Homo sapiens: one gene and its partners. The protein of the gene in region 1 purifies or fractionates together with the protein of each later gene. This does not show direct contact. Each region holds a gene or a part of one and is shown in the gene's direction. Other genes may lie near its edges.

Region 1 (7,026 bases):
TTACCAATAGCGCATACTTTCTAAAGATTTAAAGAGAGAATTAGGAAAGCAAAAATGGGAAAAATTAGGGTGAAATTAAGTCCTTATTTGTAAGGAGTGTAGTTGCATTAAAAAACAACTGGGGTTAATGAGAATAACAGGAGCTAAGAGTTCCCAACAGGGTGGGAATATGGTGTATAAAGGAAAGGGCCGGAGAAGAGGAAGGGGGAAATGAGAAAGGGGCATCGATAGCATTCCCCATCAAACTGCCCCCAGAAAGGAATGGTGGAAGTTTAGAGCAAGGCCAGCCACCAGTCTAGAGCAACCTGCTCTGAAGGAGCAGCCTGCAGGGGATCCCCAATCGGTATCTAAACAGCCAGAATGCATTGTGGCTTGGGGTGACCAGTCCAAGGTGACTGCACAGGGAGAGGATCACAAGAGGCAGGAGAGCGCAGAAGTGCTCTGTTAGCCACCCAAGAAGCTTACCTTACAGAGTAACCACCCCCTCCACACCCGCCCCCACCCACAGTGTGACACACTGCTGTCCAGACTGACAGAATTGCAGGAAAAGTACAAGGCCAGCCAGAAGGAGATGGGGCAGCTGCAGATGGAGCAGTGTGAGCTCCTGGAGGATCAGAGGAGGATGCAGGAGGAGCAGGGCCAGCTGCAGGAAGAGCTGCACAGGCTCACACTGCCACTGCCAAAGAGTGGCCTCTTACTCAAGGTAACTCTGCCACAGGCAGCTGCTAACTGCGGGGAAGCTGCTCTGAGAAGCTTCCCTGTGTGACTAGGGAAAAATAAAAGGGTGGGGATTGAACTTTTTCTCTTACCAACCACTCCTTACTTTCTCACCACTCTCCCCAAACCAAAAAGCTCCATAGAGCCAATTAGAGTTTTTCTTATAAGGGCTTTAAATCTTAAAATACCTTTTATACTCAGGAATCTGTGCAGCAGTTTATATTTAGGTATTTAGTCCATCTGGAGAAAATGCACCTGAAGCCACTTTGTAAACTACAAAATATATCCCAACACAAGAGACCACTGCCACTTTTAGCAGGTCTCCATAGAAGGGCTCCCCCGTCCCCAGATGGGCTCTGTGAAGTCAACCCTGAGATTCTTCAGGGAATTGTTCACAACGGGGATGAGGCACCAAGGAGGCATCAGACTTCCTGTGTGACCACCACCATCCCTTGCCTCCTTCCTTCTACTCCGCCTCAGAGTCAGGAGCTACTCACCAAGTTAGAAGACCTGTGTGAGCTGCAGCTGCTCTACCAAGGCATGCAGGAGGAACAGAAGAAGCTGATACAGAACCAAGACTGTGTATTAAAAGAACAATTAGAGATCCACGAAGAGCTGCGACGTTTCAAAGAGTCTCATTTCCAGGAAGTGTTGGAGAATCCCGATGATTCCAAATTGGCTAAGTCCTCCAAATGTAATCGAAACAAGGTAACCATAGCAAGAGGTAGGGAGACAGTTCTCCTGAGCACAACAGCATGGCAGAGAGAGTGGGCACCGCCGAAGGGTCAGAGTTGGGAAGGCGTGTTTGGCCAGGGGTAAGGATAAGGCAAAAGCCCTGCCTTTCACCAGCTGTGACCACTCACAGGCTCCATTAAGAGGTGGCTTTTAGATACGGCCTGAGGACCTCACCTAGATGCCATTATCCTTTATCACACTGATATTCACAGTGCCCAGTTGAAGCACTATGAGCACTCAGGGCAGAGCTGGGATGACCAGAAGTCTGTCATCAGATCATTCGACTCATTCCCAGTAAGATGTATAATATCAGTTTGGTGTTTGTTTGGATTCCTTTGGACTGACTCTAAATGTCATCTTTTTCTTGAGTGGAAAAGTACACTTCTCAGTTATCAAAATCTATCACCTTTGGTGTTCTCTATGAGGCAAATTTGGGGCCTTTCATTTCCAAGAGAAGAATTCCTAGCATATGGGGTTCTTAGTACTGACCACACTATCTTCATTGGAACTTTGGTGGCAGTAACAGAGCAAGGTCACAGGGGTTAGACCAGAAAATTGATGCCTCTCAAGTACCAGCAAGAGGTCATTCAGATGAGGTGACACAGGTGGAGATCACCATACAATTCTCTTCAGGGTTGGGGGATAAAGTTGTTCTGAGGTCTCAGCGTGGGCAAGGAGGGGCAGGTAGACAGTTTCGGTTTAGGCCAAATCTATTCATTCAGATCTTATTCTGAACAAGGAGAACCAGGGAGTAGCAGAAGTCAACACTGTGAGGCTGGATCATATTCCAGGGGCATCAGATGTCCAGGCTGGAGGCCTGGGTAACACAGCTGGGAACCAGGTATAAAATATTTCCTTAACTGATCAGATCTCATCCTGGACATCAGCAGCCAAGAAGCCAGGCCCAACATGCCCAGAGGCCAGATTCAGAATTGGGGCAGGAGATACAGGAACTAATAGTAAGACTTTGATTCCAATTCTTCATATTGCCGCATTCAAGGCCGGGGCTGATTTTAGAACTAGGGGTGGGCGAGGGGACTGAGCCTGAAGGTCAGGATAACAGGTATACCTGACTGAGAAGAGGGTGTGGTAGGGAGCCAGGGTGTTCTGGAAACCCACTCGGCACTGCTCCAAGGAGACAGGGATGTACCAAAGTGCAGAAACCAGCCGAAATGGGAGCCCGGAAATCATGGAGTATCTGCCCTGGGGAGATTTTCCCAAATGAGCAAGAAACTGATACATGCCAGTTACCTATAGGCTAAGTCAGAGACATAGGCCGGGGTGAGGTGGAAATGTAGGTGTGCCATTCTCTAAGGTGTGCTCTCAGACATCTGTACCAGGAGAGGTGCAGCTGGAAGGACTGAAGTGTCAGAGTAATGATACTGTCTCCCCACCCCTGCCCCCAGCAATCCAAGCTGCTCATGGAGCAGATGCAGGCCCTGCAGGTGATGTATGACGCCGGTCAGGCGAAGCAGGAGCTCTTGCAGCAAGAGCAAGGGAGGCTCCTAGAGGAGCGGAAGAGGCTGCAGGCAGACTTGCAGCTCTGCCTGGAAGAAATGCAGCTGCTTCAAGTCCAGTCCCCTTCTATAAAAATGAGCCTTGAGTCCTACGGGAAGAGCTATGGTAGCATGGTCCCCAGCAATGAGAACTGTCGCAAGACTTATGATACCACTGTGGATGACAATGAGAGCTATTACAAGAGTTACACCAGCACCCAGACCAGCAGCAAGAGCTTTCTCAAGAGCTATGACAGCAGCACCAGTGCCAGTGAGGCCTATGGGAAGAGTTACTGCACTACCAGCAACAGCAGCATTACCTATAAGAAGAGTTACGGCAGCACCAGTAGCTCTGACACCTGCCAGAAGAGTTTTGTCAGCAGCTGCACTGACGAGGAACCTGCTGAGCCTGAAGACATGGAGGTAATGGTTGCCAGGTGACAGGTCAGGCAGGGGACGATGGACTCTTGTCTTTTTAAGAGATACATCGCCAGGGGAAGGGGCAAGAAGTGTGGGAATGGGGTCAGAACTGACCTGGGGAACTATTGGAAGTAAGCGAAGCCCTCTACCCATGGCAGCCTGGTCTCCCGCTCAGCCCTCTCATAGAGAGAATCCCCCATCTGGACAGAGGCCCATAAGATTCAGTCCGTTTCCTCACCACAGCCACGATGCTCTTTATGGGGGTAAATATAGTAATCCCCCGCGGGCATCTCTGGATCCTGGTGGCCATTGTTTGGTATCCAGGGAAGGGCCCAGCAGAGTAGGGCGGAGCTTAGGTGCTCCTCAGGGTGCTATTGTTGCTCCCCCACCCCCCGCAGCGCTTTGAGGAAATGGTTGTGAAAGTGCTGATCAAGCTGCAGGCGGTGCAGGCCATGTACCAGATAAGCCAGGAGGAACACAGCCAGCTGCAAGAGCAGATGGAAAAGTTACTGGCCAAGCAGAAAGACCTGAAGGAAGAGCTGGATGCCTGTGAAAGGGAGTTCAAGGAGTGCATGGAATGCCTTGAAAAGCCCATGGCCCCCCAGAACGACAAGAATGAGGTAACCACTGTCAGGGAGGCAGGGTTTCCTCTGGCAGCCCCTGGAGCCATAGAGGTCATGGCCACTTCATAGAGGCTAAAGAGAGGGACAAAGCAGGGAGAATATGCACCTCAGAGGCTGGGCAGTCTGCTCCATCCCTGATGACATTTCCCAAGTGCCCGTGGAGCTGGGGTTTACTAGTCATCAGGACTTCTCTCATCGAATGATTTCTCTCTTTCTCCCTTTGCCACTTCTGTTCTCTTTTGCTTTGTGTTCTAGACCACTTCTGTAGAACTGTATTTTTGCATTTGCCAATCTTCTTTCATCATTTTGTGTGCATTTGCCTTGTCTCCCGGTGCACCAACTAGGAGCACCAACTAGATTGCAAGCAGCTCAAGGACAGGGACATGTCTCCTTTTGGATCGCTCACAATGCCAAGAAGAGTGCTCTGCACCCCCTAGGAATGGGACAGAAGTCTTGTCTCTGGCCAGGGGTTCACGGTCCAGTGGGGGTCTCTTTGTATACACACGGGAGAGATTCAGAGAGCAGCGAACACATGGGTCCAGATTGGCTAGTATTGGTACCTACTGAGGGGATGGTTGTGTGCTGCCATCAGCCAAGGAAGACAAAACCCGAGATCAGGGAGCAGGATGTGACTTGCCTCTGTTTCCAGGGTGAGGTGCAGGAGCCCAGTACACACTTCAGGAGTGTACAACACAGTTCTTTAAGTAATTGTTCCTGTTAGAGAGATGGGTTGGATGAAGTAGGAGTTCCCATAAAAAGAATTCTAGGCCAGGTGCGGTGGCTCACCCCTGTAATCTCAGCACTTTGGGAGGCCGAGGCGGGTGGATCACTTGAGGTCAGGAGTTTGAGACCAGCCTGGCCAACTTGGAGAAACCCCATCTCTACTAAAAATACACAAAATTAGCTGGGCATGGTGGCGCATGCCTGTAATGCCAGCTACTCAAGAGGCTGAGGCAGGAAAACCGCTTGAATCCAGGAGGCGGAGGTTGCGGTGAGCCAAGATCATGCCATTGCACTCCAGCCTGGGCAACAAGAGTGAAACTCTTGTCTCAAAAAAAAGAATTATATAATAAATCCCTGAGGTTCAGAATTGGTAGCAGCCCTATTGTTATTCCCCAGTCACAGTAGAAAACACCATTTAAATCATTGTTTTGACCTTCTTTTTTTTTTTTGAGACAGAGTCTTGCTCTGTCACCAGGCTGGAGTGCAGTGGCACGATCTCAGCTTCCTGCAACCTCCGCCTCCTGGGTTCAAGTGATTCTCCTGTTTCAGCTTCCCAAGTTTCTGGGACTACAGGCGCGCTCCAATAAGCCCAGCGAATGTTTGTATTTTTAGTAGACATGGGGTTTCACCATGTTGGCCAGGCTGGTCTCGAACTCCTGACCTCAAGTGATCTGCCCACCTCAGCCTCTTGAAGTGCTGGGATTACACTGGATGGCAAGTGAGCCGCTGCGCCCTGCCGTTTTTTTCATCTTATTAGATGGACATCATCAGGTGCCTCAAGTTAGGAGAAGCTATTTGTAAAACTATTTGAGAGGCTCATTTTCCACCGTTGAATATTTTCTTTATTGTCTACTTCCTATGGGCTTTAACAGGGAGATTTCTGAGACAGTGACCCCCAAGCAGGGCTGAGTTTGGTTGCGTGGTCAGCCAACTGGTTGCATAACCAGCCAACTCTGGGTAACTGGCCCTCCACTACCAACAGATCAAAGAACTGCAGACCAAGCTGCGGGAGCTGCAGCTGCAATACCAGGCTAGCATGGATGAGCAGGGGCGGCTTCTGGTAGTGCAGGAGCAGCTGGAGGGGCAGCTGCAGTGCTGCCAGGAGGAGCTCCGCCAGCTCAGGGAGAAGAGGCCTTCTGTTGTCAAAGAAGCCCGGGGGAAGAATGCTAATAAGAACATGAACAAGAATGCCAATGGGGTTAAAATGAAAAAGGTGACCAAGCCATGCTCGGATACTTCTGAGAGCGACCTTGAGACCAGAAAGGTGAGTAGTAACCTTGGTAGCCAGATAAGCAGAAAGGAGGAGGAGATCCTGGGAAGAAGCATTGCCTCCACAACCCTTTCAACCAGGCAAGGGATTTGTAGAGAAGCTTCTGGGATCTCTGAAGTGTCTACAGTGGTTCCCATCTTAATGGAAAGTGGGTGCTCCCTTTTCCTGTGAAGTTATGGGGAGAGTGGAACACAGACAACTCACATCGGGAGGTGCAGCCCCAAAGGACCACAGCCCCTAGGCTGGACAACTCCTTCAGTTTGCCCAGCCCCATTTGTTGGGGCTCCTGTTCTTCCTGGGTTACATGCCCAAGAGAAGAACCAAATAGATGAAGAGGGAGGAATTTGTTCAAAGTAGTTATGTACTAATAAGTGAAAGAGGATTGGGTAAAAGAAGAGTCACTGTAGGGGTGGGAAGCAACAATTTAGGTGCAGAGCCCAAGACTCTTTAGTTGTGGTAGCTGTTTGAAATGGCTTAATGGCCAACAGACATAGTGGCCCTGAGAGGTGAGGTGTGATGCCCTCTACATATGCTCAGGGGATTGGCTCACAGTCCCAGAGCACCGGGCCACACCCTTGCACTCTGACATGCTGGAAGTCATGTTTCCTGGAGCTAGTACAGCATTGTCATGAGATTAGGAGCTTCACAGGTAACGCAGCCGCCATCCTGCCCTACTCCCACCCCACAGAGTCTGGAGGTAGTGCTGTACTACAAGGCCAGCCAGAGGAAATTAGATGGACTAGCAAAAGAGGAGGAAAAGAAAGAGGAGATGGAGGAGGAAAAAAAGCAAGTGAAAGAGGAAGCAAAGGAGCAGTGTGGGGATGAGCTAGTTGCTGAGCCAGCAGATCCTGAGGAAGCTAAATCCACAGAAGATCAGGAGGAAAATGAAGAGGACAAAGAGGAAGAGGAGAAGGAAGAAGACAGTGAAGAGGAGGAGGATGACGCCGACTCTTCCCTTGAAAGTCCCGAAGAAAATAACCCCCTCAGACTTTCCGAGAGCAAAAAGGTAACCAGAGCCAAAGCCTAGATCAAGTGGGAAGTG
Region 2 (7,026 bases), on another chromosome or scaffold:
ATTTATCTTAATAAATTATTTAACTGATAGGGCAACAAAATATACATTGTTTTATAAGCTGTATTTTGCTAATTTTGAAGTCATTAGGATTTCTGTTAAGCACTTTACTTAGATTAATGTATGCTTTAATGTACTCTATTATAAAGTGTCAGTTGTAACTCTATACCTAGTAAATGTAAAAGTTAGGCCTAGTCTAATTTCTACAGTACATTTAGTTACAGAATTTGTGAGCAAGAACCCTTTGTAAATGAAACTATTTATATATTTTCCATGTTTCTTGTGCTTGGAATTCAATGAGTGTCTTGGATCTGTGGGTTTATAGTTTTTATCAAATTTAGAAAAGTTTCAGTCATTATTCCTAGAAGAAAATATATACATATATATATATATATATATATATATATATATATATATATATATTTATTTATTTATTTATTTGACCTCTTCACCCTTTTGGAAGTCCAGTTACATATATATTAGTAGCTTTGATGTTGTCTTAAAACTTACTGATGTTTAATTCAATTTTCTTTCAGTCTTCTTTGTTTCATTTTGGATAGTCTGTTGTGATGTCTCCAAATTTATTAATTTTTTCTTCTATAATGTTTAGTCTGCTCTTAATCCCACCCACCATATTTTTCATTCCAGATATTATAACTTCATCTTTAGAAATTGTCTTATATCTTCCATGTCTATGTTTTTCATGCTCTGTCTTTTCTCTAGCTTCTTGAACATATGGAATACAGTTATAATTGGCTTAATGTCTATGTCTGCTAATTCTGTCTGTGTCATTTTGGGGTTGGTTTCGGTTGATTGATATTTCTTCCCATTATGGATTCTGTTGCTTTTGCATGCCTGGTGATTTTTTTTTTAATTTGATGCCAGTCATTTGAAATTTTAGCTTGTTTGGCGCTGGATATTTTTGTATTCCATTAAATACAAAAATCTTGAGCTTCGTTCTGGGATGCATTAAGTTACCTGAAAACAGTTTGATCTTTTGGGGACATGCTTTTAAGATTTGTTAGGCAGTACTACTTTGTCACACTGTTGAGGCAAAACCCCTCTGAATACTCCAGCTGGTGGAAACAGGACCTACTTGGTGGTGTTCGCTCTCAGTCTTTTTGGTGGTTCTTTCACTATCTTTGGGTAGTTTCCTCACACTTATATTCTGATAAGTACTCAGACTTGAGGGATACCCTCTGCAGATCTTTCTCACTGTTCAACTCTGTTAAGTACTCTGCCCTGTGTACTTTAGCTACCTTGCTGTCTCCAGACTCAGTTCTGTCCCCTCAGCTCAGACCATTGTGCTCTGCCTGGATTCCCCTCTTCCTGTTCTGTGGCCTGGAAACTCTTTCAAGGCCATAATGCTGGAGCAGTTGTTGGATTCATGCTTGTTTCCCATCGATTGGGGATCACTGTCTTTTGTTGCCTGATGTCCAATGTCTTGAAAAACGTTTTATGTATTTTGTCTTTTTTTCCCCCCAGTTGTTTCAGGGAGGAGGGCAAATTTGGTCTCTGGCCACCAGTAGAAATATGTTTGTATACTTTTTTGTTTTTCAAGATGGGGTCTGGCTATGTTGCTCAGGCTGGAATATGTGATCATAGTGCATTATGGCCTCAAACTCCTGGGGTCAGGCCATCCTCCCACCCTAAACATCTGAGTAGTTGGGACTACAGGCACGCGCACCACAATGCCTGGCTGTTTATATACTTTTAATTACATTTTTGCTCTGCTAGTCTTATATTACTGCTTTTAGATGTGAGATGGACTTTTTTTATAGGAACCTTTTTTTTTTTTTTTGAAACAGAGTCTCGCTCCATGCCCAGGCGGGAGTGCAGTGGTGTGATCTCAACTCACTGCAAGCTCTACCTCCCGGGTTCACGCCATTCTCCTGCCTCAGGCTCCCGAGTAACTGGGGCTACAGGCACCCACCACCACGCCTGGCTAATTTTTTGTATTTTTTTAGTAGAGACGGGGTTTCACCGTGTTAGCCAGGATGGTCTCGATCTCCTGACCTCGTGATCCGCCTGCCTCAGCCTCCCAAAGTGCTGGGATTACAGGCATTAGCCACCACACCTGGCCAGGAACCTTATTATATAAGTTTTTTCATCTAAAATGTTTATTAAGACTAAGAAAATTGATTAATTTAATGACTCTGTTGTTGCTGTTTTGCACCCAGACTCTGAAAGTGAAGAGCTAACTTCTTCATGACACTGTTTACTGACTCTGCCTCACAATTTTGAAGTCTTTTCACTGACTTGAGATTTACTGTATTCAGAGATGAATCCTGAATTTCATTGAGTAGCTTTTTGAAGCAAATAATCTCTGTTAGAACTTGTAACATGACTTCAATCGTCTTAAACTAATGGGAAGGAAGAGGAAAGCTATTCAGAGATCTGGAATGATGGGCCAGCTCTTCTGTACGCTGTAGGGCATTTTCCTACTTCAGTGGATTGAAATCTTTTTTCTTTATTGTTATCAGTTGTAGGGCTTGGTGACAGTGAAGTAGAAATAATTATTTTCCTGTTTGAGATGTCATTTAATTCTGGAGCCAGTTTTGAATATTACTTGCTGTGAGTTTTTAAGGAATTTGTGACATTGTAGTTAATTTCATACTCCTAAAATTTTAAAAACGTCCAATTCATATTACCCAAACGGTTGAAAATATGGATGTCTTAGGATTTTAAGTACTGAGAAAATTGTTAATAGTATCAGAACAATATTTGGAATTATTATTTATGATTCAACCCTATTAGATAGTTATAGAGAGCTGTACTTGGAACACTTGGTAATTGTGATAAACTTGTTATGGCTTTTCCTTTAGAATTTTGGGTTTGAAGGGACTTCAGAAGTCATCTGCCCTTTTTTGTTTGTTTGTTTGCTTGTTTTTTTTTTTTGTTTTTGTTTTTGTTTTTTGAGACGGTCTTGTTCTGTTGCCCGGGCTGGAGTGCAGGGGCATGATCACCGCTCACTGCAGCCTTCACCTCCCGGGCTCAAGCTATCCTCCCACCTTAGCCTCCCAAGTACCTAGGACCACAGGCACGCGCTACCATGCTTGACTAATTTTTGTATTTTTTGTAGAGATGGAGTTTCACTGTGTTGCCCAGGCTGGTCTCAAGCGATCCACCCACCTCAGCCTCCCAAAGTTCTGGGATTATAGGCACAAACCAGCCTGACTCTTTGCTTGACTCTATTGACTAGGCTGTGAGTTTCCTGAAGCCAGGGACTCTATCTTTTGTCTCTGTATTCTTAGGACAGTGTTTGACACACAGTACATTCTTGATATATTTCTGTTGAATGATTGAATAATACAGCCATGTGTAGTAAAGTGGAATGAATTTGAGCCTTATGTCAGATAGACATAGACTTGGGTTCAGTTCTAGCTGTGCTACTTATTGGTATGTGAGCCTAATATCTCCAAATTACAGTTCCTACATTTATAAGATGGGAGATAATGTTTCCCTTCCTGATGGGGAAGGATTATCTACTAAGGCAGGGACAGATAAGTCTATTTTCTGTTTTGTTGACCCACTATATCCCCAGTGCTGGTTGCTGTCATTATTATTATCCTGTGCTATGCTATATCTACCTACTTATGGCTCCTCAAGTAAATCATGATAGTTCACAGCTTAGTTTTTTTGTTTGTTTGTTTGTTTTTGAGACAGGATCTCACTCTGTCACCCAGGCTGGACTGCAGTGGCACAATCGCAACCCACTGCAACCTCAAACTCCTAGGCTGAAGCAATCCTCCCACCTCAGCTTCCCAAGCAGCTGGGACTGCAGGCATGTGCTACTGCACCTGGCTAATTTTTTAAAATTTTTTTTATAGAGACCGGGTCTCACTTTTTTGCCCAGGCTGGTCTTGAATTCCTGGGTTCAAGTGATCCTCCCACCTCAGCTTCCCAAAGTGGCTGGCATTACAGGCATGAGCCACTGCGCCTGGCCGACAGCTTAGTTTTGTATGATCTCTGTTAGTGTCACCTCTATATAGCTGTATGATCTTTAGTAAGTTACTTAATTTGTAAGTGGGATAAAAAGTCACAGGATTGTTATGAGAATCAAATAGAATAATGTATGTACAATGCTTAACATATAGAAAGTGTCCAATAAATGTTAGCTCTTTATTGTTTTATTTATATTATTATCATTAGAATTATTTTCTTCAAGACCAGCGGTCCCCAACCTTTTTGGCAGCAAGGACTGGTTTCATGGAAGACGATTTTTACATGGAGCAAGGCTGAGGGGAGATGGTTTCAGGATGAAACTGTTCTACCTCAGATCATCAGCCATTAGATTCTTATGAGGAGAGTGCAACCTAGATCCCTCGCATCTACAGTTCACAATAGGGTTTGTGGTCCTGTGAGAATCTAATGCTGTTGTTGATCTGACAGGAGGCAGAGCTCAGGCAGTAATGCTTGCCCGCCCACCACTGATCTGCTGTGTGGCTTTCCTAACAAGCCATGGACCCAATCCATGGCCCAGGGGTTAGAGACTCCTGCTCTAGACTATCCTTCCCCTTTTCTTTGACTAACCAATTCCTGCTCTTCCTTTAATACCTTGTGAAGTCCCCAGGCAGAGTTGTTTTCTTCCTTATGATTCGGAAGTACCTTCACCTGCGTAGCTATTGCTTTGCAGTATTACTGTTTAGGGGCTAGATGTTTTGTCTCACATATTACTAGCACCTAACCTAGTACTTAGCATGTATCACTAGCACCTAGCATAGAAGTTGGCATGTCGTAAGTTGTAAGTAAATGTTGAAGGAATAAGTGAAGATAGCTGCAATTTTATTAATTTTCAAAATTTTGAGAATACCTTCTAGTTTTAGTACTGTAGAATTTAGTTTATTTTTTAGTTTGTCTTCTGTTTCTCCTTTTTGTTTGTTCTCTCTCTTTCCCCGTATTTGTTTTAATTACCTTTATTGGATATTTTTCCCACCGATGTTATATCTCCTTTGAGGCAAGGTGATAGGAGCAAGATTTCATGGTCCATGGTTTTTTATAGTATTAGAATATACAGTGCTTTCAGTTTGGTTTCCAATAACTTTCCTGTCCAATATGTTGAGTTTTTTTTTTTTTTTTTTTTTTTTGAGACGGAGTCTTACTCTGTCGTCTAGGCTGGAGTACAGTGGCGTGATCTCGGCTCACTGCAACCTCCTTCTCCCAGGTTCAACCAATTCTCCTGTCTCAGCCTCCTGAGTAGTTGGGATTACAAGGTGCCCACCACCGTGCCTGGTGAAGTTTTGTGTTTTTAGTAGAGACGGGATTTCACCATTTTGGCCAGGCTGGTTTCGAACTCCTGACCTCAAGTGATCTGTCCACCTGAGCCTCCCAAAATCTCATGCTGGGATTACAGGCATGAGCCACCGTGCCTGGGCCATGTTGAGATTTTTTTGTCCACAGCTTTGTATTGGACTGTCTTCAAGAAAAGTCCATTGTGATTGCCTCATTCTCAATATGATTCATATGTAGTTAAACTACAGAAATGATGAGAACCTAGAGAAGAACAGGTGAACTAGTTGTTATACCTGAGAGTATTTTTAAATTTTTTAACTGAAAATTTTCTCTTAATATATATTATGGGAGACTAGTTCTCACAGGATAAATGGAAAGGAAGACCAGTTCTTTCAAAAGGACACCAGCTGACTTTCTTTTAGGATCCATGAAACAGTTTGATACCATTCTAGGCATTAAGTTTTCAATATTCAGAAATAGTATTTGAGATTATACTTGGTACTGGGACATCTGTATAATACTTAATTTATTAATTAGTAAACTGGCTGCTTTTGGAGAGTCAGAGTGGTGGGAGGGCAAAAACAAAAACATGGGCTTGAAAGTTTAAATCCTGAATCAATCATTTAATATTTAGCTAGTTATTGAAACTGGAAAATTACTTTAAATGTTCTCTTTATTCCTGATTCTATTTTTATGCCTTCTTAGATCTATTTTACTAGTTTAATAATTTTTTTTTTTTTTTGAGACAAGGCCTCTCTCTCTTGCCGAGACTGGAATGCAGTGGCGAGATCTTGGTTCACTGCAACCTCTGCCTCCTGGGCTCAAACGATCCTCTCACCTCAGCCTCCTGAGTAGCTAGGACTACTACCATGCCCAGCTAATTTTTCTTTTCTTTTTTTTGTTTTTTGTTTTTTGTAAAGGCAGAGTTTTGCTGTGTTGCCCATTCTGGTTCCAATCTCCTGGGTTCAAGCTATCCACCACCTCAGCCTCCCAAAGTGCAGAGATTAGAGGCGTGAGCCAGTGTGCCTGGCCTACTTTAATAATTAATAAAAATAGGTGGATAAAACCCATCAACTTCACTCTGAGTGAGAGGAGATCTGCCCCTAACATTTGTAAGATCCAGGATAAGCATCCATTTACCACAATAGGCCTAAATATTTAAAGCTTATAAACCAGGCCAACAAATCATTATCTATATTCTAGTCTTTTCTCTTGATAAATATACCTTCATAATGACTTGAAAGTTTCAAATTTAAAATCTGTGGAATTTAGAATTCATAAATTCACAGTTTTGCAGCAGAGTGTGGTTAAGCCCAACCTCCTCCCGTCATCTCTGGCTCTTTCTAGCACCACAAAGAGGTCTCCTGTACATGCTGTGAACACCTTGCATGCACGCACAAGGTCTAAGCTCTTGTACTCCCATCCCCAAACAAGTACTCCTTGGCCCAAGGGTGTACACAAGTGTAGCACAGTCTTTTCTAAGGACAGACCTAGGAAAGAGGCCTGTGTGGGCCTTCAAATTGAGTTAGAAGTGCTTGGGCAAGAAATTGCAAAGTTCTGGGCACCTGGAGTGTCATTTAAAAGTGGGGAGGTAGGCCAGACTTGGGGGCTCACACCTGTAATCCCAGCACTTTGGGAGGCTGAGGCGGGTGGATCACTTGAGGTCAGGAGTTCAAGATCAGCCTGGCCAATATGGTGAAACCCCGTCTCTAATAAAAATACAAAAATTAGCAGGGCATGTTGGCGGGCCCCTGTAATCCCAGCTACTCGGGAGGCTGAGGCAGGAGAATCACTTGA
Region 3 (7,296 bases), on another chromosome or scaffold:
AAAAGATACCGAGCCGAGATGTTTGGGAAGATATTAATGTAATTAACAGAGAAAATCACAAGGGAGAAAAAAGCAGGTTTGGGAGTACAGGCATAACTTGGAGATATTGCAGGTTCAGTTCCAGACCACCATAATAAAGTGAATATCACCATAAAGCAAATTGCTCGAAATTTTCGGTTTCCTGGTACATAAAAAAAGCTATGTGTTTACACGATACTGTAGTCTAGTGCATTATTTCTAGTTTGCATTATTTCTTTAAAAAAATTTACATGCCTTAATTTAAAATGCTTTTTTTTTTTGAGACAGAGTCTTGCTCTGTCACCCAGGCTGGAGTGCAGTGGCGCGATCTCAGCTCACTGCAGCCTCTGCCTCCTGGGTTCAAGTGATTCTCCTGCCTCAGCCTCCCGAGCAGCTGGGACTACAGGCGCCCGCCACCACGCCCGGCTAATTTTTTGTATTTTTAGTAGAGATGGGGTTTCACTGTCTTAGCCAGGATGGTCTCCATCTCCTGACCTCGTGATCCGCCCGTCTCAGCCTCCTGCAGTGCTGGGATTACAGGCGTGAGCCACCGCGACTGGCCTTAAAATACTTTATTCTAAAAATGCTAATGATCGTCTAAGCCAAGTCATAATATTTTCACTGATGGAGGGTCTAGCCTTGATGTTGGGGGCTGCTGACTGATCATGGTGCTGATTGCTAAAGGCTGGGGTGGCTGTGGCAATTTCTTAAAATAAGACAACAATGAAGTTGTTTTCATTCTTCCTTTCATGATATTGATTGATTCTTCCTTTCATGAAAGATTTCTCTGTAGCATGCAATGCTGTTTGATAGCATTTTACCCATAGTAGAACTTCTTTCAAAGTTGAAGTCAATCCTCAAACCCTGCAACTGCTTTATCGACTAAGTTTATGGAATATTCTAAACCCTTTGTTGTCATTTTGGCAATGTTCACAGCATCTTCACCAGGAGTAGATTCCAGCTAAAGAAACCACTTTCTTTACTTATTCATAAGAAGCAACTCTTCATCCATAGTTTCATCATGAGATTGCAGCAATTCAGTCACATCTTCAGGTTCCACTTTTTTTTTTTTTTGAGACAGAATCTTGCTCTGTTGCCCAGGCTGGACTGCAGTGGCGCGATCTGGGCTCACTGCAACCTCTGCCTCCCGGGTTCAAGCGATTCTCCTGCCTCAGCCTCCCAAGGCTCCACTTCTAATTCTAGTTCTCTTGCTACTTCCACAGCATCTGCAGTTATTTCGTCCATGAAGTCTTGAACCCCCTCAAAGACATCCAAGAGGATTGGAATTAACTTCTTCCAAACTCCTGTTATTATTGATATTGACCTCCTCCCATAAGTCACAAATGTTCTTTTTAAAATTTTTTTATTAAATATATTTTTACTTTTTTTTTTTTGAGACACAGTCTTGCTCTGTCACTCAGGCTGGACTGCAGTGGCACAATCTCGGCTCACTGCAACCTTGGTCTCCCAGGCTCAAGCAATCCTCCCACCTCAGCCTCCCAAGTAGCCAGGTGCATGCCACCACTCCTGGCTAGTTTTTGTATTTTTTTATAGAGACAAGGTTTTCTATGTTGCCCAGGCTTGTCATGCACTCCTGAGCTTAAGTGATCCACCCACGTTGGCCTTCCAAAGTGCTGGGTTTACAGGTGTGAGACATCTCACCAAGCCAAGTCACAAATGATCTTAAGGACATCTAGAATGGTGGTGAGTCCTTTCCAGAAGGTTTTCGATTTACTTTGCCCAGATCCACCAGAGAAATCACTATGTCTGGCAGCTATAGCCTTATGAAATATTTTTTTTTTTTTGAGGCGGAGTTTCACTCTTGTTGCCCAAGCTGGAGTGCAATGGCACGATCTCAGTTCACTGAAACCTCCGCCTCCCAGGTTCAAGTGATTCTCCTGCCTCAGCCTCCTGAGTAGCTGGGATTACAGGCATGCGCCATCATGGCCAGCTAATTTTGTATTTCTAGTAGAAACGGGGGTTTCTCCATGTTGGCCAGGCTGGTCTCGATCTCCTGACCTGGTGATCCGCCCACCTCAGCCTCCCAAAGTGCTGGGATTACAGATGTGAGCCACCGTGCCCGGCCTGAAATATATTTCTTAATAAGACCTGAAAGTCAAAATGACTCCTTGATCCATGAGCTGCAGAATGTCTGTTGTGTTTGCAAGCATGAAAGCAACATTCATCTGTTTGCATACCTCCACCAGAGCTCTTGGGTGACCAGTTGCATTGTGAGTGAGAAGTAATATTTTGAAAGAAATCCTTTTTTTCCTGAGCAGTAGGACTTAAAATAAAACATACATAAAACGGTGAACTTAAAATACTCAGTTAACCATGCTATAAACATATATGCTGTCATCCAGGTTTTGTTGTTCCATTTATAGAGCACAGGCAGACTATATCTAACATAATTCTTAAGGGCTCTAGGATTTCAGGGATGTAAATGGGCACTGGCTTCAACTTAAAGTCACCAGTTGCATTAGCCCCTAACATGAGAGTCAGTCTGTTCTTAGAAGCTGTGAAGCCAGGTATTGACTTCTCTCTAGCTACAAAAGTACTACTTGGCATCTCCTTCCAATAAAAGGCTGGTTCATATATATCAAAAGTCTGTAGTTTAGTTTAGCCACCTTAATCAATTACCTTAGTTAGCTCTTCTGAATAACTTGCTGCGGCATCTACATCAGCACTTGCTGCTTCCACCTTGCACTTTTAAGTAACGGAAATAGCTCCTTTCCTTAAACCTCACGAACCAGCCTCCGCTATCTTCCACCTTTTCTTCTGCAGCTTCCTCACCTGTCTCAGCCTTCATTTTATTGAAGAGTTAGGACTTTGCTCCAGATTAGGCTTTGGCTTCAGGGAATGCTGTGGCTGGTTTGATCTTCTATCCAGACCACTCAAACTTTCTCTATATCAGCAATGTCTGTTTCACTTTCTTATCATTTTTGTGTTTACTGGAGTAGCACTTTTAATTTCCTTCAAAAACTTTTCCTTTGCATGCACAACTTGGCTAACTTTGGTGCAAGAAGACTGGCTTTCATCCTGTCTTGGCTTTCAACATGCCTTTTTCACTGAGCTTAATCATTTTCAGCTTTTTATTTAAAGTAAGAGATGTGTGACTCTTCCTTTCACTTGAACCCCCACTGTAGGATTGTTAATTGGTCTAATTTCAATATTGTTGTATCACAGGAATAAGGAGGCAAGAAGAGAGGGAGAAAGGCAGGGAGACTGCTGGTCTGTGGAGCAGTTAAAACATCCACAACATTTATGAATTAAGTTTGCCATCTTATATGGGCATGGTTCATGGTGCCCCTAAACAATTATAATAGTAATATAAAGGATAACAGATCAGCATAACATATACAATAATTATGAAAAAGTTTGAAATATTGTGAAAATTACCAAATGTGGTGCAGAGACACATAGTAAGCCTGTGCTGTAGGAAAAATGGCGCAGATAGATTTGGTTCCATGCAGAGTTGCCACAAACCTTACATTTGTAAAAACAGTTACCTGGGAAGCGCAATAAAGGAAAGTGCGAGCCTGTAGCAGATGCACGTTCCATTTAGACATCCTTAGGACTCACACCAGCGAAGGGCCCCAGCTTTTCCATACCAGTAGCTGTAATTCTGAGACGAAAGTGCTTTTCCCCCACCTTTACACCTTGCTTTCTGGAAAGATAAGACCATAATGGATTTTGAACTTGCTTTTATCATTAAAGCCCAGTGTCTTACATTTCTCCGGAAAAGGAAGCAGTGTTTGCTATGGAACAAATAGTAGAATTTTAATACATAGTCCCCTGACCGTAGAAACTGAACCTCAGGTCCTATCCTGGCTCTAGGCCACCCGGTCATGGAAGAAGAAACTTTTCTTAGAATCTTTATCTCTTGAGACAAGCTTGGAAATTACAACATATATGTACCATGAACGCGAAGTACCTGAGCTCAAAGCAGTTGAGCAATCTTAAGTGGGGGTGCCCGAAAGTGGTGCGTTCTGACCCCAAACGTCACACTACCCGTCCCTGGAGGAGCGGGTTGCAGCCCAGCTGCGTCGCCCCGCGCAGAGCTCCAGGCAGAAGAAAACTACATTTCCCAGAGACCTCTGCGCGGTCGGGAGCACCGCGAGGAGGGGCGAGATGGGGGCGGGCCTCTGTGTGAAGGCCCTTCCCATTGGTGCGCATTCCAAAGGGCCATGTAAACTTCTTCGCGATTGCACGGATTCAGGGACGCTCAGTGGCGCCGCGCCGCTCCTTGGTTTGACTTTTGTTTTTCAGTTGCGTTCCCTGACTCGGAGTCTTAGTGTGTCGTGAGTATAGAGTTTCGGGTTTGGGGTGAAGGGGTTAGGTAAGAAGCCTTGGGAAGAAAATCTGGTTAGGGAGAAGTAACTGCGGAAGCAGTGCGGAGGAGAGGACGTGAGCCTGAATGTGGTGTCCGTGGAGGGGCTGGGGACCGGAGGAGGAAAGCTCCAATGTGCAAAGGGAGAGACCTCAGGAGTGCTGGAGCGTTGGGACCTGGAGCAGTGAGGCGGTCGAGAATGGGATGAAGTGGGAAAAGGAGTACGGGATTCGGGCGCCCTGGAGATGCGTTCCGGTGTACTCTAACCCCACGCTGGTCTAGCTCTCAGTTTCCTCATTTGTGAAATAAGGGATAGTGAAAATACTGAACGGTTGTTGGGATAATAAATTGTACAGATTTGTCACGTGGCTAAAAGAAAAAAATTCAAAGTGCTACACAAATGTTAATTGTTAGTAGACAAGCTATAAGAATATATCTAAGCAAGGGTATTGGAGATAGGTGCAGAGACCCTAGCTGAAACCCGTTAATTTACCTATAAACAAAGGCATTGTTCCTTTGGAAGAGGCAATGAAGAGTAAGACGCGATTTCTGTCTGTAGGGAGCGCACGCTAGCATGGGAGAAACGATAGCAATAAAGCACTCTAATATGTTGACTTGTAGATAATTTCAAAGGCAGTTCTTTTGCACTTAGATCATTTTTGCTAAATCATTTTGGATGGGGAGACTCAGGAAAGAGAAAAAGGAGGTGGTATTTAAGATGAGTTTTCATGTACAGACTAGATTTTGTTAAGTGAAATTATGAGGGTTGTGGAGGGAGTTGTGTTCCAGCTAGAGGGAAGCTCATGAACAAAGGTATGGAGGCAGGAAAGTTATCTGGAAACGGTACATTTAGGAGAGTAGAGAGAAATAAGGCAGGAAAGTTAGGTTTGGCCCTTATGTAGAAAGCCATGAATTCTAGGCTAACAAATTGGATTTAATGCTTTAGGCTATGAGGTGCTACTGATGTATTTTATTAAAGAAAATGGTCCAGGAGACGCAAGGAGTAGGTAGAACCGTTAAGGTGTTGTAATGGTGTGGGTAAGAAGTATTGAGACTCTGAATTAACATGGTCATTGTGGAGATAAAATATACAAGATATTCATATGGTTAGACAGGAGGTTCAGAAGAATGAGTGATCAAATGATGAATTTAAGTTGCCAACTCCCGGTTGCTTGGAAACGCTGAATTAGTAACTAAAATAGGAAAGTCAGAAGGGGCATGTTTGGATAAAAAGATGATGTGTTAGGTTTAGGAAATGTTAGCTTTGAGATGCTAAAAAAATACCTAACTTGAGTGATTTCTTTTTTAAGTTAAACGTTTCAAGTGCCAGTGGGACTATGGGTGAAAATGTCCACTACATTTTTGTTAATTCAAATCAAGAGGTTGAAAGAGATGTCGTTTATTTATTCAACATGTAATTGTTACTTACTGTATGCCATGTAGTGTTTTAGATGACAGAGTTAATAATAAAAACAGGAGGAATAATGATGTTCCCAAAGAAATGGTTAGAGGAAATGATAAAGAAACTTGAAGACAGAACCTCTGAGCCAAGGGAGTAAAATTGTCAATAATAATAATAGTCCACATTTACTGAGTGCTTATATATGTGTCAAACACTGTCCCTCGGCCTTATATCCGTACACCAACCTATGACATAGAAGTAACTGAAATTTAGAGAGGATAACTTGCCTGAGGTACACAGCTAATAAGAGGCAGGGCTTTGACTCAAACCCAAGTCTGATATCAGAGCCCACATTCTCAACTACAAAGCAATATTTATTTTTATTATTATTTTTTCCAGGTAAGGTCTCACTCTGTCACCTAGGCTGGAGAGCAGTGGGGCAATCTCAGCTCAGTGCAGCCTCTGCCTCCCAAGCTCAAGCAATCCTCTGCCTCAGCCTCCTGAATAGCTGGGACTACAGGCACGTGCCACCACTCCCAGCTAATTCTGTAATTTTTGTAGAGACAGGGTTTCACCATGTTGCCCAGGCTGGTCTCAAACTCCTGACCTCCAGCAGTCCATTCACCTTGGCCTCCCAAAGTGCTGGCATTACAGGCATGAGCCACTGTGCCCAGCCTATTTTAATTGTTTTTTGAGACAGGGTCTTGCGCTGTTGTCCAGGCTAGAGTGCAGTGGCACGATCACTGCTCGCTGCAGCCTTGAACCCTCAGGCTGAAGTGATCCTCGCACCAAGCAGGTGGGACTACATTGCCACTGTGCCCAGCTAATTTTTAAAATTTTGGTAAAGACAGGGTCTTGCCATGGCCTGGCCATGCCAAGGTCCGGTCCCAAAGTGATATATTTTTAAAGGGTAGTTGGCACTACCAGGCACAGTGGCTCACGCCTGTAATCCCAACACTGGCAGGCAGAGGTGGGTGGATCATCTGAGGTCAGGAGTTCGAGACCAGCCTGGCCAACATGGCGAAACCCTGTCTTTACTAAAAATACAAAAAAAATTAGCCACAGTGGCAGGTGCCTGTAATCCCAGCCACTGGGGAGGCTGAGGCAGGAGAATCACTTGAACCCAGGAGGTGGAGGTTGCAGTGAGCCAAGATCGTGCCACTGCACTCCAGCCTGGGCTGAACAGAGTGAGACTCTGTCTCAAAAAATAAATAAATAAATAGGTAGTTGGCACTATCTAATTAAGAATACAAGTGAAGGAGTAACTATTGGATGGAGGAGGATAGAAACAGAAAAGAGCAATTGAATTTATTAATTTGGATGTCTGCTGACCAATAAGAGCTTGGTTAGATGTCATAGTAGAAGCCCGAGGCCTGGCTCAGTGGCTCATGCCTGTAATCTCAGCACTTTGGAAGGCCAAGGGAGGAGGATTGTTTGAGTCCGGGAGTTCAAGGCCAGCCTGGGCAACATAGCAAGGCCCCGTCTTGCAGCCAGAGAGGTGAGTGTAGACAACTTTTCGTAGACATGTGCAACAGTGAGGACAGTC
Region 4 (7,026 bases), on another chromosome or scaffold:
AGGTTGGGAGGAAACAAAATTGGCCATGTAATGCTGAAGTATAGTGATGAGTGCAGAGATTAATCATACTATTCTGCTTAAATATATTCTAATTTGCAGATTTATGGGGGGTTTTGTGAGAATGTACTTATCAGTTTCCCAGTAATTATGTTCTTTATTTCTGAACCGGAGTCCTTTATTTTTTAATTGTTTAGAATTGGAGAAAGAAATTGAAGAACTCAGATCAAAACCTGTTACTGAAGGAACTGGTGATATTATTAAGGTAATTATTACGTTGGGAAATGTCTAAAGAGAAATAAAATTTCCCTGAGGATTGTCAGTCTGCTAGAGGCTATCTGGCTTTCTGTTTCTGTTCTACTTCCTCTCTGCCTTGGTTGTTTTTACCTATCTGATTCACTGTAAAAAGAGGGGGTTAATGACCTCTGGGTCTCTTTCTGTTCTGAAATTATTATTCTACTCTCTTCCCACGTATTTTCTTTTTTCTTTCTTTTTTTTTTTTTTTTTTTTTGAGATGGAGTCTCACTCTGTCACCAGGCTGAAGTGCAGTGGTGTGATCTTGGCTCACTGTAACCTCTGCCTCCCGAGTTCAAGCAGTTCTCCTGCCTCAGCCTTCCAAATAGCTGGGACTACAGGCGCCCGCCACCACACCCAGTTAATTTTTGTATTTTAAGTAGAGACGGGATTTCACCATGTTGGCCAAGATGGTCTTGCTCTCTTGACCTCACGATCCGCCCGCCTCAGCCTCCCAAAGTGCTGGGATTACAGGCGTGAGCCACCACGCCCAGCCCATATTTTCTAATTATGGTTGTTACTTCATTCTCTGCTCTTCCCCAGCCCCCTGAAAACCTGGCCATGCTCAGGACTTAAGTGATTTTAGGTGTACAGTATATAATCTATAGATAGATCCATATCCCTGGACATGTCTACTGACCCAGATCTCACAGTTGTGTTTCCCTCTCACACATTTCACTTATCTCATCAAACTCAACCAAATTGCTTCCCTTGGTTAGACCAGTGGCACCACAGTTTTTTATACCTTTTGACTTTAGAGACACTTTAACTTCTCTGTTTCCTTTATTCTCTATATGTGTCAGTCACCAGAGACCTATTATAGCTTTAAGATATTGTTCCAGTTTATCTTTTTTCTCTCTATTTCTATGGCTTTATGTTAAACACATCAAATACTTAACCTATTTCAATAAAAACCTCACTGGGTTCTCTTTCTCTTTTTAGTCTTATATAATACTGCCAGATAACAAAATATTGTTTTTATTCCCCGTTTAAAAACCTGAGTTGCAGGCCAAATGCAGTGGCTCACACCTGTAATCCCAGCACTTTGGGAGGCCAAGGTGGGAGGATCACTTGAGGTCAGGAGTTTGAGATCAGCCTGGCCAGCATGGTGAAACCCTGTCTGTACTAAAAATACAACATTTAGCTGGGCGTGATTGCCCACACCTGAAATCCCAACTACTCAGGAGGCTGAGGCACGAGGATTGCTTGAACCCAGGAGGCAGAAGTTGCAATGAGTTGAGATTGAGCCACTGTACTCCAGCCTGGGCAACACAGCAAGACTCCGTTTTTAAAAAAAAAAAAAAAAACACAAAAAATCTGAGTTGCTTATTCTTATTTCCACTCCCTTAATGCTAACAAATGCTTTTTCATTCCCTCACTTTCATTGCCCGCCTTAGGCCAAGCTTCTGTAAAGTTTCTTTTACATCTCAGAGCTCTGAAATACTGTTTTCACTGCTTTTGCATAATATCCGTTGGTTATATATTTATTTATTTTTATTTATTTATTTATTTTGAGACAGAGTCTCGCCTTGTCGCCCAGGCTGGAGTGCAGTGGCACAATCTCGGCTCACCGCAAGCTCCGCCTCCTGGGTTGACGCCATTCTCCTGCCTCAGCCTCCCAAGTAGCTGGGACTACAGGCACCCGCCACCATGCCTGGCTAATTTTTTGTATTTTTAGTAGAAACAGGGTTTCACCACGTTAGCCAGGATGGTCTCGATCTCCTGACCTCGTGATCCACCTGCCTCGTCCTCCCGAAGTGCTGGGTTTACGGGCGTGAGCCACTGCGCCCAGCCTGGTTATATATTATCTTATTTTCTCATCAGTGGCTCCCCACTTGTGAGCAGTGAACTACTGAGGGACTCCCAGAGAGTTATTACAAGGGGTCTTTAAATCCATATGCATGTCACACAGTATCATTTTGTTCTTTATTTAGTTACAGTGTATGAAGCTAGAATGATGTGCACAAATGTCATTTCATTTTATAATGTACTGTTTCATTTAAGTATTACTGAGTTCACAGTAGTCTTCTTTGTATATTTAGTCATTATATGTTTTCTTAATCCATGATAGCCACAGTACAACTATATGTTAATTAAGGAAGAAGGTCGATAACACCCAGACTGCCTGAGTCAGGCTTTCAAATCCTTGTTCATCTACTGATCAGCTGTGTGACCTTGACTAAGTTTCTTAAATTCTTTCTCTATGATTCAGTTTTGTCATCTGTAGAACAGCGATAATAATACTTTCTGTTTGTAGGATTGAGGTACAAACAGGATTGATGTAGAAATGTAGGATTGATAAGGTAATATATCTACTGCACATAGAACTGGGTTGGTCACATAAGTACCCAATAATTGTTAGTTATCATTGTTATTACTACCATTTATTATTTCTGGGGGATTTTTTTTTTTCTTGAGATAGGATTTCTCCCTATCGCCCAGGCTGGAGTGCAGTGGCGTGATCTCCGCTCACTGCAACCTCTATAGAGTGTTAGAAAACACTCTAGAAAGTTTTTTATCCATTAACTCTTATAATACTTTTTACAGAATTGCATTTCAGAATAAGAACATTTAAATATCTACCTGCTGTTTCCTCCTTATCACTCATCAATGTATTCTCCCACTGTCAAAACTACTCCTAAAGACAAGATTAGAAAATTTCAGCCAGGCTCGGTGGCTCACATCTGTAATCCCAGCACTTTGGGAGGCTGAGGCGGACAGATCACCTGAGGTCAGGAATTGGAGACCAGCCTGGCCAACTTGGTGAAACCCCATCTCTACTCAAAATACAAAAATTAACCAGGCATGGTGGCACGCGCCTATAGCCCAAGCTACTTGGTAGCTGAGGCAGAAGAATCGCTTGAACCGAGGAGGCAGAGGTTGCAGTGAGCTGAGATAGTGCCACTGCACTACAGCCTGAGCAACAGAGTGAGACTCCGTCTCAAGAAAAAAAAAAAATTCTCCAAGTTAGCCAACTTTACCTTTAAGGTTTTTTTTCTTTTCCTTCTTTTTTTTTCCTGATCCATTATATTTATACGTATTCATGGGGTACATGTGAAATTTTGTTAAATGCACAGAATATATAATCATTAAATCAGAGTATTTACTATCCACAGCCAGGTATTTATCATATATATGTGTTGTGTACATTTCAAGTCTTCTGGCTATTTTGAAAAATATTTATCTTTCCCTGTCTTAGATTTTACTTAACATAATGACCTCCAGCTCCATCCATATTCCTGGAAATGGCGTGATCTTATTCTTTTTTATGGGCATATAGTATTCCATTGTGTATATATACCACATTTATCCATTCATCCTTTGATGGGCACTTAAGTTGATTTCATGTATTTGCTATTGTGAGTAGTGCTGCAATAAACACAGGAGTGTATATATCCCTTTGTTATATTGATTTGTTTTCAATGACTACCAATATTGGGGTTTTTGGATTGTATGGTAGCTCTATTTTTAGTTTTTTGAGAAATCCCCAACTGTTTTCTTTTTTTTGAGACGGAGTCTTGCTCTGTCGCCCAGGCTGTAGTGCAGTGGCATGATCTTGGCTCACTGCAAGCTCTGCCTTCCAGGTTCACACCATTCTTCTGCCTCAGCGTCCTGAGTAGCTGGGACTACAGGCGCCGGCCACCAAGCCTGGCTAATTTTTTGTATTTTTTAGTAGAGATGGGGTTTCACCATATTAGCCAGGATGGTCTCGATCCCCTGACCACTTTGGGAGCCAGCCTCGGCCTCCCAAAGTGTTGGGATTACAGGCGTGAGCCACCGCTCCTGGCCTGAGAAATCCCCAACTGTTTTGTATAGTGACTATGCTTACCTACACTTCCACCAACAGTGTAGAAGAGTTCTTTCTCCACATTGTCATCAATATCTGTTACTTTTTTTCTTCTTAATAGCCATTCCTTATTGTGGTTTTGATTTGCATATCCCTGATGATTAGTGATATTGAGTATTTTATCATATACTTCTTGGCCATTTCTTTGTCTTTTAAGAAATGTCTATTCATGTCCCTTGCCTATTTTTTAATGGGGTTATTTTTTAATGTTGTGTTGTTTGAGTTCCTTGTATACTCTGGGTATTAGTCCCATATTGGATGAGTAGATTGCAAATATTTTGTCCCATTTAAGAGGTTGTCTTCTTCATGCTGTTGATTGTTTCTTTTGCTATGCAGAAGCTTTTTAGCCTATAATCTCAGCATTAAGGGAAGCCATGGCAGGAGGATCACTTGAGCCGAGCAGTTTGAGACCAGCCTGAGAAACATAGCAAGATCCGTTTCTACAAAAAAATATAAATTAGCCAGACATGGTGGAACATGCCTGTAGTCCCATCTTCTTGGGATGCTGAGATAGGAAGATCACTTGATCCCAGGAGGTTGAGGCTGCTGTGAGCCATAATCACACTTACTGCACTCCAGCCTGGGTGACAGAGGGAGCCCTTACATAAAAAAAAAAAAAAAAAAATTTAAGATGCCTTTCAGTTTAATGTAGTCCTATTTGTCTGTTTTTGTTGCCTGGGCTTTTGAGATCTTAGCCATAAAATCTTTGCCTAGACCAATGTCTTGATGCATTTGCCCTGTGTTTTCTTCTTTTAGTTTTACACTTTTGGGTCTTATATAATATAAGTCTTTAATCTATTTTTGTTGATATTTGTATCAACTAAATGGTGAGAGATAGGGACTCACTTTCATTCTTCTGCATATAGTTACCTGGATTTCCTGGCACCGTTTGTTAAGAGGGTGTCGTTTGCCCAGTGTGTGTTCTTAATGGCATTGTCGAAGATCGGTTGTGTATAAATATGAGGATTTATTTTTGGGTTCTCTATTTTGTTCCATTGGTCTGTATGCTTGTTTATATACCAATACTTTGTTGCTTTGGTTTCTATAGCCTCGTAATATGTTTTGAAGTCAAGTAGAATGATGCCGCCGCTTTATTTTTTAACTCAGAATTTCTTTAGCTTTTCTGGCTTTTTTTTTGGTTTCATGAAAACATTAGGATTCTTTTTTCTGTTTCTTTGAAAAATGGTGTTGGTATTTTAATAGGGATTTCATTGAACTGTACATTAGTTTGGATAGTATGATCATTTCAACAATATTTTGTGAGCATGAAATGTCTTCCTGCTTATTTGTGTTCTCTTCAGTTTCTTTCATCTGTGTTTTTGTAGTTTTCATTATAGAGATCTTACACTTCTTTGGCTTTTGTTTGAGCTACTGTAAAAGGTGTTGCCTTCTTGATTTCCTTTTTTAGCTATTTTATTGTTGGTATATAGAAATGCTACTGGTTTTTGTATGTTGAATTTGTATCCAGCAACCTTACTGAATTTATCAGCTCTAAGAATTTTTTGATAGTCTTTTGTCATCTGTAGAGAGGGACAGTTTAACTTCCATGTTTCCAGTTTGGATGTCGTTTATTTCTTTCTCTTGCCTAATTGTTCTGGCTAGGACTGTCAGTCCCATGTTGAATAGTAGTGGTGAAAGTGGGCATCTTTGTCTTCAGTTCTTAGAGGAAAGATTTTCAGCTTTTCCCCATTTTTGTGTGATGTTAATGTGAGTTTGTCATATGTGGCCTTTATTATTTTGAGGTATAATCCTTCTGTGCCTAGTTTGCTAAGAGTTTTTATCCTGAAGGGATGTTGAATTTTATGAATTCCTTTTTCTGCGTCTAGTGAGATGACATACGACTTTTGCCCTTTATTCTGTTGATGTGATATGTCACATTGATTTGCATATATTGAACCATCCTTGCATCCCTCGAATAAATTCATTTGATCATGGTGTATTATCTTTTCAATGTGCTGTTAGATTTGGTTTGCCAGTATTTTGCTGAGGATTTTTGCATTGGTGTTCATCAGGGATATTGGTTGTTGCTTTCTTTTTTTTTTTTTTTTTTTTGCTGTGTCCTTGTCTGGTTTTGGTATCAGGGTAGCACCAGCTTTCTAGAATGAGTTAGGGAAAATTGCCACCTCTTCAGTATTTTGGAGTAGTTTCAGGAGGATTGGTATTAGGTCTTTATACATTTGGTAGAATTCAGTGTGCATCCATCTGGTTCTGGGCTTTTCTTTGTGGGGAGACTTTTTATTACTGATTCGTTCTTGCTACTCATTATTAATTTGTTCAGGTTTTCTATTTTTTCCTGGATTTTTCTTTGATAGGTTGTATGTTTCCAGAAATTTATCCATTTCCTCTAGGTTTTCCAGTTTGTGGGTGCATAGCTGTTCATAATATTCTCTGATGGTCTATTTATTTCTATGAGAATGGTTGTAATGTCTCCTTTTTCATTTCTGATTTTATTTAGGTCTTCTTTTTTGTTGTTGTTAGCCTAACTAGTAGTTTATCAATTTTGTTTATCTTTTTGAAGAACAAGCTTTTCATTTTGTTGATCCTCTGCCTTTTTTAAAAGTCTCTATTTCATTTAGTTCTGCTTTGATCTTTATTAGTCGTTTCCTTCTGCTAATTTTGGGTTTGGCTTTGGCTTGTTCTTTCTGGTTCATTGAGGTAAATCATTAGATTGTTTGAAATCTTTTTACTTTTTGGATGTAGGCGTTTATTGCCATAAACTTAGTATTCATGTCCTGCTTTTGTTGTATCACACAGGTTTTGTGATACAAAAAATCACATAGGTTTTGTGATACAAAAGCACTGCTTTTGTTGTATCACATAGGTTTTGGTATGTTGTAGTTTCCATTTTCATTTGTTCCAAGAAATTTTTTGATTTTCATTTTAATTTC

The links.
Region 2: the proteins of CCDC136 (region 1) and CCDC88A purify together in Homo sapiens (affinity purification with mass spectrometry; 2 studies listed by BioGRID and IntAct, with this or other methods). This does not show direct contact.
Region 3: the proteins of CCDC136 (region 1) and CCDC77 purify together in Homo sapiens (affinity purification with mass spectrometry; 2 studies listed by BioGRID and IntAct, with this or other methods). This does not show direct contact.
Region 4: the proteins of CCDC136 (region 1) and GCC2 purify together in Homo sapiens (affinity purification with mass spectrometry; 2 studies listed by BioGRID and IntAct, with this or other methods). This does not show direct contact.

Annotation. Positions count from the first base shown.
Region 1 is NC_000007.14:128,808,942-128,815,967, forward strand, and holds part of CCDC136 (coiled-coil domain-containing protein 136), read left to right. Parts: intron 1-508; coding exon 509-703; intron 704-1,197; coding exon 1,198-1,425; intron 1,426-2,320; coding exon of another isoform or gene 2,321-2,411; intron 2,412-2,858; coding exon 2,859-3,371; intron 3,372-3,766; coding exon 3,767-3,988; intron 3,989-5,696; coding exon 5,697-5,978; intron 5,979-6,672; coding exon 6,673-6,990; intron 6,991-7,026. UniProt on the Homo sapiens protein: May play a role in acrosome formation in spermatogenesis and in fertilization.
Region 2 is NC_000002.12:55,409,838-55,416,863, reverse strand, and holds part of CCDC88A (girdin), read left to right. Parts: intron 1-7,026. UniProt on the Homo sapiens protein: Bifunctional modulator of guanine nucleotide-binding proteins (G proteins). Acts as a non-receptor guanine nucleotide exchange factor which binds to and activates guanine nucleotide-binding protein G(i) alpha subunits.
Region 3 is NC_000012.12:397,366-404,661, forward strand, and holds the start of CCDC77 (coiled-coil domain-containing protein 77), read left to right. Parts: upstream 1-4,278; 5' UTR 4,279-4,319; intron 4,320-7,296.
Region 4 is NC_000002.12:108,452,205-108,459,230, forward strand, and holds part of GCC2 (GRIP and coiled-coil domain-containing protein 2), read left to right. Parts: intron 1-194; coding exon 195-262; intron 263-7,026. UniProt on the Homo sapiens protein: Golgin which probably tethers transport vesicles to the trans-Golgi network (TGN) and regulates vesicular transport between the endosomes and the Golgi.